Linked DNA regions of Homo sapiens: all the other regions are linked to region 1. The links come from fine-mapping of genetic effects on gene expression. A gene starts in region 1. Each other region holds a variant in brackets. All regions are shown on one strand. Distances are from middle to middle.

Region 1 (2,684 bases):
CCTGTAGTACCAGCTACCTGGGAAGATCTCTTGAGCCCAGTAGGTTGAGGCTGCAGTGAACTGTGATGGAGTCACTGCATTCTAGCCTGGGTGAGAAACCATTATCCTGTCTCAAAACGACAAAAAACAAACATACAGTCACCTCTTTGCTAGCTCAGGGGATCCTGGAGAAAACGTGCAGAATGAAAAAGGAGAGTCTGGGTGGCGTGGATTACATGCCTGTAATCCCAGCACTTTGGGAGGCAAGACAGGTGGATCCCTTGAGCTCAGGAGTTCAGCCTGAGCCACATGGTGAAACCGTGTTTCAAAAAAAAAACTACAAAAATTAGCTGGGCATAGTGGCATGTGCCCGTGATCCCAGCTACTCGGGAGGCTGAGGTGAGAGGATCACTTGAGCTGGGGAGGCAGAGGTTGCAGTGAGCCAAGATTGCGCCACTGCACTCCGGCCTGGGCAACAGAGCGAGATATTGTCCGGGAAAAAAAAAAAAAAAAAAGGAAGGAAAAAAAAAAAGAAAGAAAAAGGGGAAGATACACTGGAACACAAATGCTTCTTAAGGGGCGCAGTGGCTCACTTCTGCAATCTTGGCACTTTCGGGGGCCGAGGCTGGTGGATCACGAGGTCAGGAGTTCGAGACCAGCCTAGTCAACATGGAAAAACCCCGTCTCTACTAAAACTACAAAAATTAGCCGGGCGTGGTGTCGGGCGCCTGTAATCCCAGCTACTCGGGAGGCTGAGGCAGGATAATCGCTTTAATCAGGAAGGCGGAGGTTGCAGTGAACCGAGATCGTGCCATTGCACTCCAGCCTGGGCGACAAGAGTGAAACTCCGTCTCAAAAAAAAAAAAAAAAAAAAAAAAAAAAAAAGAGGAAGAACAAAGGTCCCAAGAGTTGGACCCAGGTTGTAGGGCTGGAATAAAAAATAAAATACAAACTTGTGCCTGATCCAGAAACCCGGGCGGGAGTTGGGTCAGACAGAAGAGCGTGGGCTGGGATTAGCTACCACGAAAAGGAACGGTGGCCAGGCTCCAGGAGACGCTGGAGCGCCGGGCCCGTCGTGGGCGTGGTCTGGGCAGACTCAGCGTTGCCTTTTGCCTCTCCAAAACGCAGCATCGCGTCTCGGGGGAGGAGTCTGTACCCTCGTGATGTCCCCGCCCCGGTTCCCAGGCAAGTTTAGGGAAGTGAAAGGCGCCAGGTGCCAGTCCTGGCCTCTGATGTAACCCAGCGCCCCGCAGTCCCGACACAGATTCCTGGATCTCAGCCCCATAGCAGCTATGATCCCGCTGCTGCTGGCAGCGCTGCTGTGCGTCCCCGCCGGGGCCCTGACCTGCTACGGGGACTCCGGGCAGCCTGTAGACTGGTGAGTGCGCAGCGGGGGGCCTACCATCGCCCCGGGGTCCGGCTGCGGTCACTCAACCGGGATGGCTACCTCCTCGGGGAACCCTGGGGTGCCTTCTCTTCCCTCTCTCCTATTTCTGTGCATTCTCCGACCTCCAGGTTCGTGGTCTACAAGCTGCCAGCTCTTAGAGGGTCCGGGGAGGCGGCGCAGAGAGGGCTGCAGTACAAGTATCTGGACGAGAGCTCCGGAGGCTGGCGGGACGGCAGGGCACTCATCAACAGCCCGGAGGGGGCCGTGGGCCGAAGCCTGCAGCCGCTGTACCGGAGCAACACCAGCCAGGTGAAGGGGGCCCCGGGCCAACTAGGGGCGAAACTCTAGGGCTGCCCTGCCTGGGAGGAATTTCACGTTGCCTCCGTTTATCCGCCCGCAGCTCGCCTTCCTGCTCTACAATGACCAACCGCCTCAACCCAGCAAGGCTCAGGACTCTTCCATGCGTGGGCACACGAAGGGTGAGGCCTGGATTGGGGGCTGGGGAGAGACTCGGGTCCCATTTTTCCAAGGTAACCCCTGACGTGCATGGGGTGGTCGGGGAGATCTGCACTGTCAGACCCTGGGCATCTATTCCCCCCAACTTTTTTTTTTCTTTGTTTTTGAGACGGTGGGAGTTCGCTCTGTCACCCAAGCTGGAGTGCAGTGGCACAATCTTGGCTCACTGCAATCTCTGCCTCTGGGGTTGAAGCAATTCTCCTGTCTCAGCCTCCCAAGTAGCTGGTATTAAAGGCGCACCATCACACCAGGCTAATTTTCATATTTTTAGTACAGACGAGGTTTCACCATGTTGGCCAGGCTGGTCTCGAACTCCTGGTTTCTACCTCAAGTGATCTACCCGCCTTGGCCTCCCAAAGTGCTGGGATTACAGGAATGAGCCACCCTGCCCAGCCGAGTTCCTATGCATTTTTCCAAGCTAACCCCTGACCTCCATAGTGGGGTGGGAGATCTCCCCTGTCAGACCTTGGGCATCTATTTCCCCTATTTTATTTTCTTTTAGACAAGGTCTCACCCAGTCACCTAGGCTGGAGTGCAGTATCACAGCTCACTGCAGCCTTGACCTCCCAGGGCTCAGGTGATCCTCCTACCTCAGCCTCCCAAGTACTGGGCCTGCCGGTACCCCCCACCACGCCTGGCTTTTTTTTTTTTTTTTTTTTTTTGCGGCACTCTCTCTCCATCACCCAGGCTGGAGTTCGGTGGTGCAATCTCAGCTCACTGCAATCTCCATCTCCCCAGTTCAAGCGATTCTTCTGCCTCAGCCTCTGGAGTAGCTGGGATTACAGGTGTGCGCCACCATGCC
Region 2 (2,684 bases), 21 kb after region 1:
CACCTGAGGTCAGGAGTTCAAGACCAGCCTGGCCAACCTGGTGAAACCCCTGTCTCTACTAAAAATACAAAAATCAGCTGGGCATGGTGGAGGCGCGCCTTTAGTCCCAGCTACTCAGGAGGCTGAGGCATGAGAATCCTTGAGCCTGGGAGATGGAGGTTGCTGTGCACCAAGATTGCGCCACGGCACTCCAGCCTGGGTGAAAGAGCGAGACTCCATAAATAAATAAATAAATAAATGTCCTTATCTCTTTGGCTTGCTCTGCTTGTTTATTGTCTGTCTATACAGACCAGAATGGAATCTCCATGGCGGGGAGATGTCTGTGCCTGGGTCTCCTCTGTGTCACTGGCACCTAGCACAGCATGTGACACGAGGGAGATGATGAGGAGGTGTTCGTTGAGTGACTGGATGGTTGACTGGAAGGCTTGGAGGAGGCACAGCTGAGGCCCCAGGGATCATGTATGTGTCATAATAGCCACAGCATGTGTGGTTTTGGACAATAGATGGATTAACATTTGGGTGAATACATGCACGGATGGATTAAAAACAATATATGGGCCGCAAGCTATGGCTCACGCCTGTAATCCCAGCACTTTGGGAGGCTGAGGTGGGAGGATCACCTGAGGTCAGGAGTTCGAGACCAGCCTGGCCAACATGGTGAAAACCCTATTTCTACTAAAAATACAAAAAATTAGCCAGGTGTGGTGGCACACACCTGTAATCCCAGCTACTCGGGAGGCTCAGGCAGGAGAATCACTTGAACCTGGAAGGTGGAGGTTACAGTGAGCCGAGATAGCGCCACTGCATTCGAGCCTGGTGACAGAGCAAGACTCTGTCTCAAAAAAAAAAAAAAAAAGAAAGAAAGAAAAAGGAAAAATAGGTGTATAAGCCGGGTGTGGTGGTTCACGCCTGTAATCACAGCACTTTGGGAGGCCGAGGTGGGCGGATCATGAGGTCAAGAGATCGAGACCATCCTGGCCAACACGGTGAAACCCCGTCTCTACTAAAAATACAAAAAAAATTAGTCGGGCATGGTGGCGGGCACCTGTAATCCCAGCTACTCAGGAGGCTGAGGCAGGAGAATGGTGTGAACCTAGGAGGTGGAGCTTGCAGTGAGCTGAGATTGCGCCACTGCACTCCAGCCTGGGAGACAGAGCAAGACGCCGTCCCCCCCAAAAAAAAGAAAAATAGGTGTATAATGGTAAACAGACATACGGATGGATAAACAGATGGACAACCACAAAGACAAATTGCGGGATGTGAGGGATGGATGGAAAGGTGGATTAATAAACAGGTATATGGGATGGGCTCGGTGGCTCGTGCCTGTAATCCCAGGACTTTGGAAGGCTGAGGCAGGACGGTTGCTTGAGCCCAGGAGTTGGAGACTAACTTGGGCAATACAGGGAGACTGCATAAAAAACAAAACAAACGAACAAAAAAAAACAAAAAACAAAAAACTTTTTTTTTTTTTTTTT[TG/G]CGGGACAGGGTCTTGCTCAGTTGCCAGGGCTGGAGTGCAATGGCATGATCTCAGCCTAGCCTGGAGTGCAGCAGCACGATCTCGGCTTACTGCAACCTCTGCTTCCTGTGTTTAAACAATCCTCCCACTTCAGCCACGTGAGTAGCTGGGATTATAGGAGTGTGCCATCTGGCTAATTTTTGTATTTTTGGTAGAGTCAGGGTTTCACCATGTTGGCCAGGCTGGTCTTGAACCCCTGACCTTGTGATCTCCCCACCTTGGCCTCCCAAAAATTAGCCGAGTGTGGTGGTCCGCACCTATAATCCCAGGTATTTGGGAGGCTGAGGTGGGAGAATTGATTGAGCCCAGGCATTTGAGGCTGCAGTGAGCTGTGATCGCACCACTACATTCCAGCCTGAGCAACAGAGTGAGATCTTGTCTCAAAAATAAATAAATAAAATAAAATAGGCCTGGCACAGTGGCTCATGCCTGTAATCCCAGCACTTTGGGAGGCCCAGGCAGGCAGATCACTTAAGGTCAGGAGTTCAAGACTAGCCTGGCAAACATGGCGAAATCCTGTCTCTGCTAAAAATAGAAAAATTACCCATGAATGGTGGCACAGGCCCATAATCCCAGCTACTCGGGAGGCTGAGGCATAAGAATCGCTTGAGCCTGGGAGTCGGAGGTTGCAGTGAACCGAGATTGCACCACTGCACTGCAGCCTGGGTGACAGAGCAAGACTCTGTCTCAAAAAATAAATAAATGAATAAATGAATAAATAAATAAATAAATAAAAACAGGTTCATGGATGTATGGATGGAAAAACAGATGGATTAGCACATCAGTAGATAGAAGGATAGATGGATGGATAATGGGTCAGACTGAATGTTTTTATGCTGAATGAAATGAAAAACAAATAAACCAATAGATGACTGAATAAATATATAGGTAGAATGGATGGACAAATCAATGACTGGAGAAATAAATAGATGGATAAACATACAGGCCGACTAATCAATATGGAGACTGCGGCTCAGGCAGGCCACCCCGCAGCCCTGACCAGTGAGCACGGCCCCATCTTCCCTGCAGCCCCGCAGGCAGCCACACCTTCCACATATTCCATGACCATGCAGAGGTGGCGCCGAGTCTCAAAGGAGCAGAACATGCCGACCACAAACGGGTTCTCGGCGAAGGTGAGGATATCGCGCTCCACAAAGGCCTGCTGGAT
Region 3 (2,684 bases), 31 kb after region 1:
TAGCCAGGTGTGGTAGTGTGTGCCTGTAGTCCTAGCTACCTGGGAGGCTGAAGTGGGAGAATTACTTGAGCCCAGGGGGCTAAGGCTGCAGTGAGCTGATTATACCACTGCACTCCTGCCTGGGTGACAGAGAGAGAGACCCTGTCTCAAAAAAAAAAAAAGAAAAAAAGAAAAGAAAAAGAGGCCGGGCACAGTGGCTCACGCCTGTAATCCCAGCATTTTGGGAGGCAGAGGAGGGTGAATTACTTGAGGTCAGGGGTTTGAGACCAGCCTGCCCAACATGGCAAAACCCCATCTCTACTGGAAGTACAAAAATTAGCTGGGTATAGTGCCACACACTTGTAATGCCAGCTACTTGGGAGGCTGAGGCAAGAGAATCGCTTGAACCAGGGAGGTGGAGGTTGCAGTGAGCCGAGATCACATCACTACACTCCAGCCTGGGTAGCAGAGTGAGACTGTCTCAAAAAAAAAAAAAAAGAAAAGAAAAAACTAATATCTTATTGCAATACTTGAAAAGCCTAAAATTAATGCCAAAAATCTATCATAAGCCAAAATATCAAAATTTAAGCCAGATGTGGTGGTACATGCCTATAATCCCAGCTACTCAGGAGGCTGAGGCAGGAGGATTGCTTGAGCCCAGGAGTTCAAGACCACCCTGGGCAACATAGAGAGTCCTCCATCTCAAATGAAAAAGAAAAAGAAAAAGAAAATTAAATAAAGACAGAATCCAACAGGCTGTGCCTAGCCATATTGTAACTTGAGCCAAAAAAAAGTATGCACCAACCTATATGTGTTTTAATGTGTCTTTGAAAATGTCTAATGGTTTCAATGAAAATAGTATTATTGATGAGTTTGCTTTCATTAAAACCAGGACAGTAAAATTATAACACATTCTGGCTTGGTTATAAATAAAATATGTAAACTTAAAATAATGTTGGGTTTTCATTTATCTACTTTTCAAGTTTTTCAAAAATTAATTTAATGTTCTGGGGGAAGAAATAATTACTTGCTTTACCCTGGTCCTGGTCTCAGCCCTAATACCTATTGGGTCTTTGTTTGTTTGACTTGTTTTACTGTAGAGACAGGGTCTCGCTATGTTACCCAGGCTGGTCTGCAACTCCTGGGCTCCAGAAAGCCTCCTGTCTCAGCTCCCCAAAGTGCTGGGATTACAGGGGTTAGCTTCTAACGCCTATTGTTTATCTTCTGTCTCTTCCTGCTATTAATAGAATGTCAGCTCTCCAAAGACAAGAATTTTTGTTTTATTTCCAGTTGATTTCCCAGCTTTTAGGCTAGTGC[C/A]AGGCCCATAGTAGGTGCTTAATAAATATTGGTGGGGGCCAGGCATGGTGGCTCACACCTGTAATCCCAGCACTTTGGGAGGCAGAGGCAGGTGGATCACCTAAGGTCAGGAGTTAGAGACCAGCCTGGCCAACATGGTGAAACCCTGCCTCGACTAAAAATACAAAAATTAGCCAGGCATGGTGGTGGGTGCCTGTGATCCCAGCTACTCGGGAGGCTGAGGCAGGAGAATGGCTTGAACCTGAGAGGTGGAGGTTGCAGTGAGCCAAAATCGCACCACTGCACTCCAGCCCAGTGGGATAGAGTGAGACTCTGTCTCCAAAAAAAATAAAATAAATAAATAAATAAATATTGGTGGAATTAATGAATGATCAAGTGATCCTCCTGCCTCAGCCTCTCAAGTAGCTGGGACAGCAGGTGTGTGCCACTACACCTAGCTAATTATTTTTATTTTTATTTTTATTTTTTTTGAGACAGAATCTCACTCTGTTGCCCAGGCTGGAGTGCAGTGGCGCAACCTCGGCTCACTGCAACCACTGCCTCCCGGATTCAAGCGATTCTCCTGCTTCAGCCTCCTGAGTAGCTGGGATTACAGGCACGTGCCACCAAGCCCGGCTAACTTTTTTGTATTTTTAGTAAAGACAGAGTTTCACCTTATTGGCCAGGCTGGTTTCAAACTCCTGACCTCGTGATCTGCTCGCCTCAGCCTCCCAAAGTGCTGGGATTAAAGGCGTGAGCAACCTCGCCTGGCTTAAATTTTTTAAATTGTTTTAGAGATGGGGTCCTGCTATGTTGCCCAAGCTGGTCTCAAGCTCCTGACCTCAAGCAATCCTCCCATCTCAGCCTCCTAAGTAGCTAGCTGGGACTACAGGTGCATGCCACTGCAAAGGGACATTCAAGCATCAATTTACCCAACATTTATTGAGTACCTACTGTGTGCTGGGTATTGTTCCAAACAGCAGGGACACAGCAGTGGACAGAACAGACAACTCCACCCCCCCACCCTCACCAACTATGGGGCTGACATTGGAGAAGGATAGACATGAAATAAAATAAGCAAAAATACACAGTATGATGGATGGTGCTGAGTGTCAAGGAGAAACTGAGGAGAAAGTGGGTGATAAATGTGAGTAGAGTTTAATATTTTATTTTATTTCATTTATTTATTTATTTTTGAGACAGAGTTTCACTCTTGTTGCTCAGACTGGAGTGCAATGGTGTGATCTCGGCTCACCGCAACCTCCGACTCCCAGGTTCAAGCGATTCTCCCGCCTCTGCCTCCCAAGTAGTTGGGATTACAGGCGCCCACCACCACGCCCAGCTAATTTTTGTATTTTTAGTAGAGACGGGGTTTCGCCATGTTGGCCAGGCTGGTCTCGAACTCCTGA
Region 4 (2,684 bases), 830 kb after region 1:
TTAACATTTCCAGCTTCAGAAGATGTGATGGCCATGAAGTCTTTGTGTAAGAAAAGTAAGAGGGAAGTTAGTCTATAATGAAATCAATCCTTAAGAGGGAAGGGGTCTTTCCTGACTTGCTTGTCATTTAAAATATTTTACAAAACAATATAGGTAAGAAAGAAAGCTAATCTGTAATCAGGGAATGGAAGGTTCCCTGGCTGGCTCTGTTACCGCTGCCTGTGAGGTGTCTCAACCCCAGAATGGCATTCCTTTAAACCTCAAGATAATTTAGAGTTCCAGCAGCTTAAATTTTTGAATCACCTATTTTCACATTCTGTACAGGTGAAACTTTTGGTTATGTAATCAGAGATTAATTGACCTATTGTGCCTGGTTAAGCCTAAATTTCATTTCCCTATAAATTAGTCATTAGTGATATTGTTTCCTCAGGCCACAGATTAGAAATTTATGTGAATTGGATTTGAATTTGGCTTCAGTATGCTTGTGAAGGGTCTTAGTGTTCTATAGCCAGTTCAGTTTAATTGCTTCTTATTTATTTATTTATTTACTTTTGAGACGGAGTCTCTTTCTGTCGCCCAGGCTGGAGTGCACTGGCATAATCTTGGCTCACTGCAAACTCCACCTCCCGGGTTCAATCGATTCTCCTGCTTCAGCCTCCCAAGTAGCTGGGACTACAGGTGCATGCCACCATACCTGGCTAATTTTTGTATTTTTAGTAGAGACAGGGTTTCACCATGTTGGCCAGGCTGGTCTCAAACTCCTGATCTCAGGTGATCTGCCTGCTTTGGCCTCCCACAGTGCTGGGATTACAGGCATGAGCCACCGCACCCGGCCAAAATTGGATGTTTTAAAATTGGATGCCATGTCAGTAAGAATATACTTGGGAACACCACCCAGGAAAATGAATAGTCCTTGGGCAGTTCTGGTGTGTTTCTTTGATGTCATCTAACTATGGCACACAAAGGTGGTCAAAATTTTGATTCTTTTGGTTATTCTTTTTTTTTTTGAGATGGAGTTTCGCTCTTGTTGCCCAAGCTGGAGTACAATGGCGTGAGTTCAGCTCACTGCAACCTCCACCTCCCAGGTTCAAGTGATTCTCCTGCCTCAGCCTCCCGAGTAGCTGGGATTACAGGCATGCGCCACCACACCTGGCTAATTTTTGTATTTTTAGTAGAGATGGGGTTTCACTAGGTTGGCCAAGCTGGTCTTGAACTCCTGACCTCATGCTCCACCCGCCTTGGCTTCCCAAAGTGTTGGGATTACAGGTGTGAGCCACTGTGCCCGGCCTGTTATTCTTTTTTTTTTTTTTTTTTTTTGAGAGGGAGTCTCGCTCTGTCGCTCAGGCTGGAGTGCAGTGACACCATCTCTGCTCACTACAACTTCTATCTCCTGGGTCCAAGCGATTCTCCTTCCTCAGCCTCCCAAGTAGCTGGGATTACAGGCACCTGCCACCACACCTGGCTAATTTTTGTATTTTTAGTAGAGATGGGGTTTCACCACTTTGGCTGAGCTGGTCTTGAACT[CCTG/G]ACCTCAGGTGATCCACCTCCCAAAGTGCTGGAATTACAGACATGAGCCACCGCACCCAGCCTTCTTTTTGTTATTCTTTGTAGCTGTATTATCTTTTTTTTTTTTTTTTTGAGACGGAGCTGCCTCTCGCCCAGGCTGGAGTGCAGTGGCGTGATCTCGGCTCACTGCAACATCTGCCTCCTGGGTTCAAGCGATTCTCCTGCCTTAGCTTCCCGAGTAGCTGGGACTACAGGTGCATACCACCACACCCAGCTAATTTTTATATTTTTAGTAGAGATGGAGTTTCACTATATTGGCCAGGCTGGTCTCAAACTCCTGACTTTGTGATCTGCCCACCTCAGTTTCCCAAAGTGCTGAGGCACCGCGCCCAGCCTTTCTTTCTTTTCTTTTCTTTTTCTTTTCTTTTTTTTTTTTTTTGAGACAGAGTCTTGCTCTGTTGCCCAAGCTGGAGTGCAATGCACGATCTTGGCTCATTGTAATCTCTACCTCCTAGGTTCAAGTGATTCTGCTGCCTCGGCCCCCCAAGTAGCTGGGATTACAAGCGCCTGCCACCATGCCCAGCTGATATTCGTATTTTTAGTAGAGACGTGGTTTCACCTGGTTGGCCAGGCTGGTCTCGAACTCCTGAGCTCAGGTGATCCATCTGTGCCTGCCTCCTAAAGTGCTGGGATTACAGGTGTGAGCCACTGTGCCAGGCCTGCCATATTTTTTCTTTTTTTTTTTTCTTTTTTTGAGATGGAGTCTCGTTCAGTCGCCCAGGCTGGAGTGCAGTGGCTCGATCTTGGCTCACTGCAAGCTCCGCCTCCCGGGTTCATGCCATTCTCCTACCTCAGCCTCCCGAGTAGCTGGGACTATAGGCGCCCGCCACCAAGACCGGCTAGTTTTATGTATTTTTAGTAGAGATGCGGTTTCACGGTGTTAGCCAGGATGGTCTCAATCTCCTGACCTCGTGATCCACCCGCCTCGGCCTCCCAAAGTGCTGGGATTACAGGCATGAGCCACCGCGCCCAGCCCAGGCCTGCCATATTTTCTTTTATCACAAAGTAGAATTTTGGCTGTTTGGAGTTTCCAGTAACTTAGTATTGCAATTAATGTACCTTTCATGTTATACCAAAAGGGTTTGTTTCTGACTTTTTGCCTCATTCTGTTGCAAACA

Which allele goes with the higher level. Alleles are on the strand shown, and positions count from the first base shown. SD is a standard deviation of normalised expression in the study named. Not every link is listed here.
In carriers of allele TG in region 2, the expression in monocytes of the gene that starts at base 1,198 in region 1 tends to be higher than with G alone (moderate effect, 0.66 SD a copy in CEDAR).

The links. PIP is the estimated chance that this variant, and not a neighbour inherited with it, causes the effect.
Region 2: its variant is the best candidate, but not a certain one, in a credible set for the expression of DNASE2 in monocytes (CEDAR, PIP 0.77).
Region 3: its variant is the best candidate, but not a certain one, in a credible set for the expression of DNASE2 in monocytes (TOPMed, PIP 0.63).
Region 4: its variant is the best candidate, but not a certain one, in a credible set for the expression of DNASE2 in whole blood (TOPMed, PIP 0.87).

The regions. Positions count from the first base shown.
Region 1 is chr19:12,879,963-12,882,646 of GRCh38, reverse strand. DNASE2 (deoxyribonuclease 2, lysosomal) reads left to right here and starts at 1,198. Exons shown (of 6, transcript NM_001375.3): 1 at 1,198-1,357; 2 at 1,495-1,675; 3 at 1,767-1,845. The coding sequence starts at 1,272. RefSeq lists cis regulatory regions at 1-76, 816-1,376 and enhancers at 1,271-1,380, 1,040-1,667.
Region 2 is chr19:12,858,619-12,861,302 of GRCh38, reverse strand. MAST1 (microtubule associated serine/threonine kinase 1) reads right to left here. Exons shown (of 26, transcript NM_014975.3): 12 at 2,564-2,684. Among named protein-coding and RNA genes, the nearest start is that of MIR6794, 7.7 kb to the right of the region's middle. The variant TG/G (reference allele first, on the strand shown) is at 1,476.
Region 3 is chr19:12,848,746-12,851,429 of GRCh38, reverse strand. All of the region lies in intron 7 of MAST1 (microtubule associated serine/threonine kinase 1), which reads right to left. Among named protein-coding and RNA genes, the nearest start is that of MIR6794, 2.2 kb to the left of the region's middle. The variant C/A (reference allele first, on the strand shown) is at 1,297.
Region 4 is chr19:12,048,094-12,050,777 of GRCh38, reverse strand. All of the region lies in intron 1 of ZNF878 (zinc finger protein 878), which reads left to right. Among named protein-coding and RNA genes, the nearest start is that of ZNF878, 3.5 kb to the left of the region's middle. The variant CCTG/G (reference allele first, on the strand shown) is at 1,525.